Regions from separate parts of the Homo sapiens genome. Here region 2 is linked to region 1. The links come from fine-mapping of genetic effects on gene expression. A gene starts in region 1. The other region holds a variant in brackets. All regions are shown on one strand. Distances are between the middles of the regions.

Region 1 (4,398 bases):
GCAATGAAAACGAAAGAACAAGTACACCCAAAAACACAGTGAGTCTCACAAGCAGGCACAAAATTATTCACTTTATATACAGTTCAAACCACAAGCAAACTAAATGATAAAGTTTCAGGGTGCATATTTAGTTGGCAAACTTACTTTTAAAAGCAAAGAAGAGAGTACCATGGAAGTCAGAATAGTGCTTAGGCTAGGGAAGAGGGATGGGGTACTGGCAATGTTCTATTTCTTGATGGGGGTGTTGGTTTCATGAATATTTGCCTTGTGATAAATCATGGAGTTGTACATTCCGGTTTTGTGCACTATTAAAATGTTGTTGTACTTCACTCTCTACTTCCACAGTCAGCCTTCTTCTGTTCTTGAATAGGTTTCATTTCACTTCTCAAGTCCTTTGCACTTGCTTTCCCTTCTGCCTGGAAAGCTCTTCCTCCACGTATTCCAAGCTTTGGTTCTATCAGTTTTGATCTTTAGGGTTTGACCTCAGATGTGCCCATTTCAGTAAGATCTTGTAGCTCCACTACTTCTGCCCTTGGCCTCCAGCCCCCAGTCCCATCCACTAGCATTTCCAGTGAGTTTTCACAGCATGTATTGTTATCTGAGATTCTATTTTCTTGTCGTGGTGATTTACCTGTGTTTGTCACTCACCTCTGGAATAAATTCCATTATAGGCAGGGTCCTTATCTAGCTTGTTCATGATTGTAAAACCAGTGTCTATTACAGCACCTGGTTACAGTAAACAGTAAACACAATGACTGAATCTCTTGGTATTACCAGCACAGTGCTTGACTCATGATACATGTTCATTAGCACTTAATCTCTCTCATTGGTACAGTCATATGTCACTTAATGTTTCAGTTAACAACAGACCACATATCCAACAGTGATCTTATATGATTATAATAGAGCTGAAGAGTTCTATTGCCTAGTGATGTCGTAGCCATCTTAATTTCGTACAGCAACACATTACTCATATGTTTGTGGTGATGCTGGTGTAAATGAATCTACTGCACTGCCAGTCATATAAAAGTACAGCACACATGGCCAGGCGCAGTGGCTCCACCGTAATCCCAGCCCCCCAGTGGGACAAAATGGAGGTGAAGACAATGATGTTGATGATCCTGACCCTGTGTAGGCCCAGGTTAATGTGTGTTTGTGTCTTAGTTTTTAACAAAAAAGTTTAAAAAGTAAATTAAAAAAATTTTTAAATAGAAAAAAACTTACAGATTAAGGATATAAAGAAAATATTTGTGTACAATGTGTTTGTTTTAAGCTAAGTGTTATTACAAAAGAGTCTTAAAAAGTTTTTTAAAAGTTTTAAAAAGTTAAAAAGTTACAGTAAGCTAAGGTTAATTATGAAAAAATTTAAAAAAATAAATTCAGTGTAGCTTAGGTGTACAGTGTTTATAAAGTCTACAAGAGTGTACAGTAATGTCCCAGACCTTCACATTCTCATTGCTCACTCACAGACTCACCCAGAGCAACTCCCAGTACTGCAAGGTCCATTCGTGAGAATGCCTTACACAGGTGTACCATTATTTTTCATACTGTATTTTTATTGTACCTTTTCTATGTCTAGATATGCTTATACAAATACTTACCATTGTGTTATAATTGTCCACAGTATTCAGTACAATAACATATAGCATGGGTTTGTAGCCAGGAGTAATGGGCTATGGCTTATGGTGTAAGTATGTAGTAGGTTATGCTTCTAGGTTTCTGTGATGTTCACTCAAGGACCAAATTGCCTAATGAGGCATCTCTCTCATAAGGTGTCCCTACAGTTAAATGATGTTTGCATGACTATTTATCATGGGCAAGGGTAAACCTGAATTTATTGATGGTCACCTTAGCTCTCTGTGCATGTGTTATAAATTTCTAGAGATGCTTTCCTAGGGGGTAACAGCCACACCTACTATATGGATTAAAACAAGGGCAAAATTTCCAAAATGTCGCATTCGGGCCAGACAAATAAACTGTTCTTGCAGCAGCACCTGGGGAATGAAACGCTGAGAAGGGAGAAGGCGCCCGAAGGCGACCACGTGGGCCACAGCCACAGCACTGTAGGTCAGCCGAGAGAGCGTCTCCCGCCTCTTCCCAAGGGCATCTTCCGCCTCCTGTCAAGGGTCGGCAACGCGAGACACCACGCGCTCGTTGGGATCGGCCGCCTAATCAGGAGCGAGCTGTGGCCTTACGCCTGCGCAGAGGGGAGACGCGAGCGCCGCGTGGACGCTGACCTCGGTCCGCGCCTGCGCCTTGGTTTCTTCCCGGCGATTGGTTCCCATCTCTGAGGGAGACGCCTCACTTCAGTTTTCACTTTCTTTTTTTGCCCCCCCCTCCCCTTTTCTTTTCCTTTGGCCGCGAGGTTTTGCTTCCGGTTGCTAGCGCCGGTCAGAGAGAAAGTCGGCATGTTCTCGCAGGCTGCCGGGCGTCCCGGGGTTGCCTCTTGCCCGTGACCCTGACGGGAGACAGAGCGCGGGCGGCCGCGGCGTCCCTGTCAGCGCCCGCGGCGAGGACCCCGGGGCTGGGGCGGACGGCGTGCCCCTGAGGGGGGTCCCCGCGGGAGCGCGGAGCCGGCGACTGGTGCTTCCCACGTGCGCCGGTGTCGCGAGGGCCCGGGAGGACGCAGAGCACGGCCGGGAGAAGCATGGGAAGGAGGCCGAGCCGGGATCTCAGGTCCTCGGGGGCGGCGGCCACGCCAAGGACGGGTAAGTCCCTCCTCGGCCTGGGCGCCCGGGAACCCTGCGAGGAGGACGGCGGGTCCCCGAGGCCGAGCGCTCGGGCAGCTGCCGGGGCTTGGCTGCGAGGGTCGACGCGTTCTCCTTGCCTTTTGCCGCGCTCCGGGTGAGGGGGTGGGAGGGGTCGGCGCCTTCTAGATGACTCAACCTTCTGTCCTGCGCTACAACCTGTGGCCGCGCTCGGTGTCGCCGGCAGGGAGATCCTAACCGTGTCATCTTGCCCCTTTCTGAGGCGTTTCGTTTGCGTCGCCTGTCAGGGGACAGCTGCGTCCTCAGGGATATGCTGATAAGTTCTTGGCTGAAGTTTCCGTCTTCGGGTTTGCACCGGCTGGGAAATCATTTCCTGCGGGTTCTGCGTGAAGCCTGCTGCTACTCGAGACTTCATGGCAATGCGCCACCTTTTCTTTTTAGGGTAAAACAGGTCTCTCCGAAGGGAGGGTCATTTCAGCAGCAAGCGCAAGCCGCGTTGGGATAACTTGGTGCGAGCAACACAGAAGTTTGTCTGAAGGCGGCGCCAAGCAGCGTTTCGTGGGAGAACTGGGTTGATGACTGAAATTTTGAGGAAGATTACTTTGGGAATTCTCAAGTTTCTCTTAGTCGCTTCTTGTCTATTTGAAATCTGTAACTTTAAACAAACCACGCTTACTCTTCCTTATTCTCCCTGTAAGGTACAATTAGAATAGAAAAGTTTATGAAAGTGTATCCAAAACTTAAATATGTGGCGTACAAGTGTATGGTATTATTGGAATGGCATTCGCGATCCTAGAGTCTACAGTGTTCCCTGAATAAAACTAGGGGTGAGCCTGGCGGTAATCCTGCCTAGGAGGTTTATAGCAAAGCAGTGTCCCCTAACGGTGCAAGAATACCCTTCTGTCGAAAAACTGCCTTATAGGAATGGGTGACTGTATGCGGTATGTCCTGTACTGTACATCAATAAATAACTAAGCCAGGCCAGAAAAAGGGTGACAAAAGGTCCACAATTATGTTAAGGAAGACCAAGACGGTATATTTGAAGTTTTGTGTATACAGAACATTTGCCCAAATGTAACTAATTTTTTTAAAGGGAGATTATAAGCATCTCCTGTGGTCCAAACATAGTTGTTAAAATGGGTTAAAATCGGTGAAGTGCCTAAGAACTTGACTGAGACATGGTGTTTGTTAAATACAGTATACTATCTATTCAGTAAAAATAGATCAATATGGCATGTATTTATCAAGTGAATTTCATTTTTCTGTTGGTAGACATTCAAGTTATTTTCAAGATATCCCTATAACTGACAATACTGCAGTGATTATCTCTTGCTGTTATAAACAGTGCTTCAGGTGGTCATGATAGTATTTCTGTAGAATTGACTCCTTATGAGAGTGCTGGATAACCATGTTGCTAAATTGCCCTGAAATGATTGTACCTTTTTATGTTCACTCGCTCAAAAGATGTGTTTTTATCTCCATGCTAGCCAGCACTGGATGATAATGGTATTTTTAAAATATCTTAGCCACCTAGTAATTGAAAGTAACATTCTGTTTTAATTTTTATCTTCCTTGGTGAATACAAAAGTTAAATCTTTTTAGGCAGGTCATATCATTTGCTGATGTTTTTATTGAGTCTGAGCTCTCTTTTCTTTCGCCCATGTAACTATTACTGTAGCATTTTAATTAT
Region 2 (4,398 bases), 77 kb after region 1:
CCTACTACTACAAACTTTAAAAAATATATGGAACTTGTACCATTAATGCTTTTTTGGATACTTATAAGTTGCCACCACTTTAAGGAGAATGGAAAAATTAAGACCATAATCTATCCTTAATTCAGTTGTACCCTAAAAGAAGAGGCTTATAAATACGCAAACTTCACTAAGTCTAAAGCTGTAATTTATAAAAGAAAAAAATACATGTTTGATTCCTTGGCTGAAGAGAGCTGGGGCTGAGAGATTCCTCCACATTCTCACAAGCAGGACCAATTGGAAAAGCAGACCTGACAAGCCCTTGTGAAATAAGGATTTCAGGCACTGTTAGGTGCATCCATTTTCATTCAGACTTCATCCCCAGGAGCTAGATAGCAAATCCTCACTTTTATAATGCAGAACTGAAGCAGAGTAGATAACAAACATGACCAAGGTCAAACAAGTAGTAAGTTATGAAGCTGGGTTTCAATCCCAGAAAGACGAAACGACTGTTAGCTGTATGTGACCTTTGAGGAACAGAATCTCAGAAAGCTTTTCTCTTGAAGTGGAGCTAGCAAAGGAGAGAAGGAGCACAGAGGTTTCCTTGGCAGGAAAGGAGGGTGCAAAGGCTTCAGCAGGTCAAGGGTATGACCATTCACAGCGGACTTCAGTAACCAGCACTTGAGGGGAAAAACGTCAACTTCGGTAAGTAGAGAAGCACATTTAAGGTTCTGATGTACCACAGCACACCTATAAAATAAGCATAAATCAATCTAGCACTTCTAGGGCTTTGGGTAGAGAAAGTCATGTCACTTAACGACGGGGATACAGCCTGAGAAACGTCATAAGACGATTTTGTCTATGTGCAGACATAGAGTGTACTTACACAAACTGATATGGTAGAGCCTACTCCTAGATTGCAAACCTGTACATGTGACTGTACTGAATACTGTAGGCAGATTTAATGCAATGGTGGTATCTGTGTGTCTAAACACAAAAAAGGTTCAGTAAATTACAGTAGTATAATTTTATGGGACCACCATTGTATATGTGGTCCGTCATTGACTGAAACATCATTATGTGGTACATGCCCGTACTCACTGCTGTTGGCGCTGCAGTATGCTCTTCATATTATACCACTCTGGCATTATGTAACAGGCGTTATGTATTATTGAGAACTCATTAGAAAACTCTTCATATCCTTTGACCTTTTGTGGAATTTACCCAAAATTCTAGGTGGTTATCAGTCATTGCAAAACCAACCTCAGTTCCATCTCTAGGAGGGAGATATGCAGACTACAGTTAAATATTTTAAAGTTTATACAAAATAATGCCCACCCAAAACTTACACAATAGAAGCATGTAAAAAGTTTCTATTCATAGAAAGAGGGATGGCATAAAAGTTGGTATCATGTAACTATGTTCAGTATGATGTCATAAAAAATTTATACAGGAAAAAGTGAAAGGAAATTAATTCATGATGTTAAGAGTGATTATCACTAGGGTTATGGGAATGGGTGTGATTTGGGTTTTCTCCAACAAGCATGAGAATGTAAGTGATGAAAACTAGAGAGACGGGAGTCGAGCAGAGACAGAAATGCTAAAAATTTAAACATACTGAGTTAACACATTTTCCTAGTAGTGATAGAATTTTCAGGGAAGCAAGAAACCAAGAAAATTCTGGCTGCTACCTAATTTTAATGAAGTTGGCGATTATCTGCCCACAAGGTATGAGAAGTATAGATGTGCATTGCTCTACAAATATACAACGCAATAAGGCCCACTCGAAATTCATGAAAGGCTTGCCAAGCCACATGGCTTGATTGGTCGTAGGTAGATGCATGATGTCCCTCTTAGAATGAGGCCCATGTTTAAAATCCACATTTACAAAAGGAGTAGGTACAATTGTGATGTTTTGAGGTAACCAAAGTGTGTCATGAAAAAGAACGTCAAGAAGAAAGGCAGAGGAACTCATGAGTTTGAATGGTTAAACTGAAGGCAAGAAAAAGTCCTAAGAATAAAACTGAAAAATATTTTAATATGCCTATGTATCTTTCACAGAGTGGATTCAACTGCACATAAGAAGAACATAATGTTGAAGTCATTTCAGAGTGCAAATATCATTGAATTGCTTCATTATCACCAGTGTGACTCTCGATCATCAACAAAAGCAGAAATTCTGAAATGTTTGCTAAACCTGCAAATTCAGCATATTGATGCCAGGTTTGCTGTCCTCCTAACAGGTAATTCACAGGCGCATTTTACTCAGTTAATGCCAAAATTGGTCAGCTCTAGGAATGTCAAAGTTAGATACCTGATGAAGAGTATCAGGTATCTAAATGGCTTGGCATCCCATGGATACCAGAATCACCCAAATCTGCTGAAGCTGAAGCCCTTATATAAAATGTAGTATTTGCAGGTAACTACACAATCCTCCTATGTATGTAAGTCAGTTCTAGATTACTTATAATACTCAATACAGTATAAGTAGTTATAC[C/T]GTATTATTTTTTAAATCAATACTGGGGCTGGGTGCAGTGGCTCACACCTGTAATCCCAGCACTTTGGGAGGCCGAGGCGGGCGGATCACTTGAGGTCAGGAGTTAGAGACCAGCCTAGCCAACATGGTGAAACCCCATCTCTACTAAAAATACAAAAATTAGTCAGGTGTGGTGGTTCATGCCAGTAGTCCCAGCTACTTGGGAGGCCGAGGCAGGAGAATGGCTTGAACCCCGGAGGCAGAGGTTGCTTTTAAAAAATTTGTGGGGCAGCCAGGGACAGTGGCTCACGCCTGTAATGCCAGCACTTTGGGAGGCTGAAGCAGGTGGATCACTGAGCCCAGGAATTTGAGGCCAGCCTGGGCAACTTAGCGAGACCTCATCTCTACAGAAGTTGGCAGGTGTGGTGATGTGTGCCTATAGTCCTAGCTACTTGGGTTAAGGCAGAAGGATTGCTCGAGGCTGCAGTGAGCCGTCATCACACCACTGCACTGTAACCTGGGTGGCAGAACAAGACCCTATCTATCTTTAAAAAAAAAAAAAAAAAAGTGTTAAGAAAAATTTACGTAAAGAACCATAGTTATCATTTTTCAGGGATTTTTTTTCAGTACTTTAACCACCACCCCCGATGGAGGCATCTATTTCCAAAGCTTCAAATCTTTTCTTAATTTGGAACCCAACACCTTTTCTCCCCCTACCCCTCACACGAGGAAGTTCCACAGATTTTTTAAAATAAAAAACCAGGTCCTGTTATATAAAAGTACATTAATTATATTAACCAAAAGTTGTTTTTTTTTTTTTTTAACAGACAAGCCTACTATCCCCAGAGAAGTCTTTGAAAATAGTGGAATCCTTGTTACAGATGTAAATAACTTTATAGAAAACATAGAAAAAATAGCAGCTCCATTTAGGAGTAGCTATTGGTAAGAACACTTTTTATGTAACTTTCCCATGTGAGTTGGAGTTGTTGATGGCAAATATTGACATTTGTGTCTAAGGGAAACAGTTGGGAAACTGTTGTTTACATACTTCATGCTATAAATTTAAAGTGTTTGTTTAGGGGTGGAATTGCTATTTGGCATAAATAGGAATTCCTAAATTATCACTAAATGAAGTAACCATCTACTAAAATTACCTATTTTATCTAATGTGCATTTTCACTTGCTGTTAACTTGGATCGTCAGTACAGAACATAATGTAACCTTAGAATGCATAGGCGTTTTCCCCATTAGAGCATCCCGCTTATAAAATATTTCTTGTTCGTATTATTTTAAGAAGTTCTTTATCAATTTTGTGTTTCTTCAGGTGACTCAACTACAGCCTGCCTGGATATGGATGATGCCAATAAAAAATTAGTATTTTCCCTTTGGAAAACTTGTGAACATGTGAATACACATGTGAACAGTCTTACATTTGAAAAACCAATGTTCTACAACTTGGAAAGTTTTCATTTTTTATATTTTGCTGAAATATGTCACAGTGGCATTGCAGTTGTCTGTTAGCTTTGGGTTGCAGTGCTAGATATTGTTTTAAATTATTTTCATTTTAAACAAGATGCCTTCTAAGCTATTGAGCTTATTAAAAATAATTTTACATGTTTACTTAGTTGGAGCAAAAATAAGTCTATTTTAACAAATAGCTTTGTTTTTGCATGCTAATGTCAGAAAGGCATACGATGCACATTATGCTCTGTTTTAAAGGTTTTACCACCCTTGTAAAAACTATAATCTTAAATGGTTTTATTTGCTGTTACACAAACAACACTACATAAAACATTTTTTCCTAAATGGTACAAATTTATAAACTATCATTTTTCACTTACGGTATTTGTAAATACTACACTACAAAAATCAGCTTTCTGAGAAAGAAATAATCATTTATTTATGATATTGAAAATTTCTACAGTAAACACTCAAAACCAAGCAAA

Evidence for each region. PIP is the estimated chance that this variant, and not a neighbour inherited with it, causes the effect. A credible set is the group of variants that fine-mapping cannot tell apart.
Region 2: its variant is the best candidate, but not a certain one, in a credible set for the expression of TASOR2 in whole blood (TOPMed, PIP 0.78).

Annotation. Positions count from the first base shown.
Region 1 is chr10:5,682,468-5,686,865 of GRCh38, forward strand. TASOR2 (transcription activation suppressor family member 2) reads left to right here and starts at 2,371. Exons shown (of 22, transcript NM_001321783.2): 1 at 2,371-2,708. RefSeq lists enhancers at 1,925-2,164, 2,305-2,414, 3,035-3,214 and silencers at 2,465-2,724, 2,765-2,814.
Region 2 is chr10:5,759,253-5,763,650 of GRCh38, forward strand. TASOR2 (transcription activation suppressor family member 2) reads left to right here. Exons shown (of 22, transcript NM_001321783.2): 20 at 2,038-2,219; 21 at 3,280-3,394; 22 at 3,777-4,398. The coding sequence ends at 3,780. Among named protein-coding and RNA genes, the nearest start is that of GDI2, 52 kb to the right of the region's middle. The variant C/T (reference allele first, on the strand shown) is at 2,474.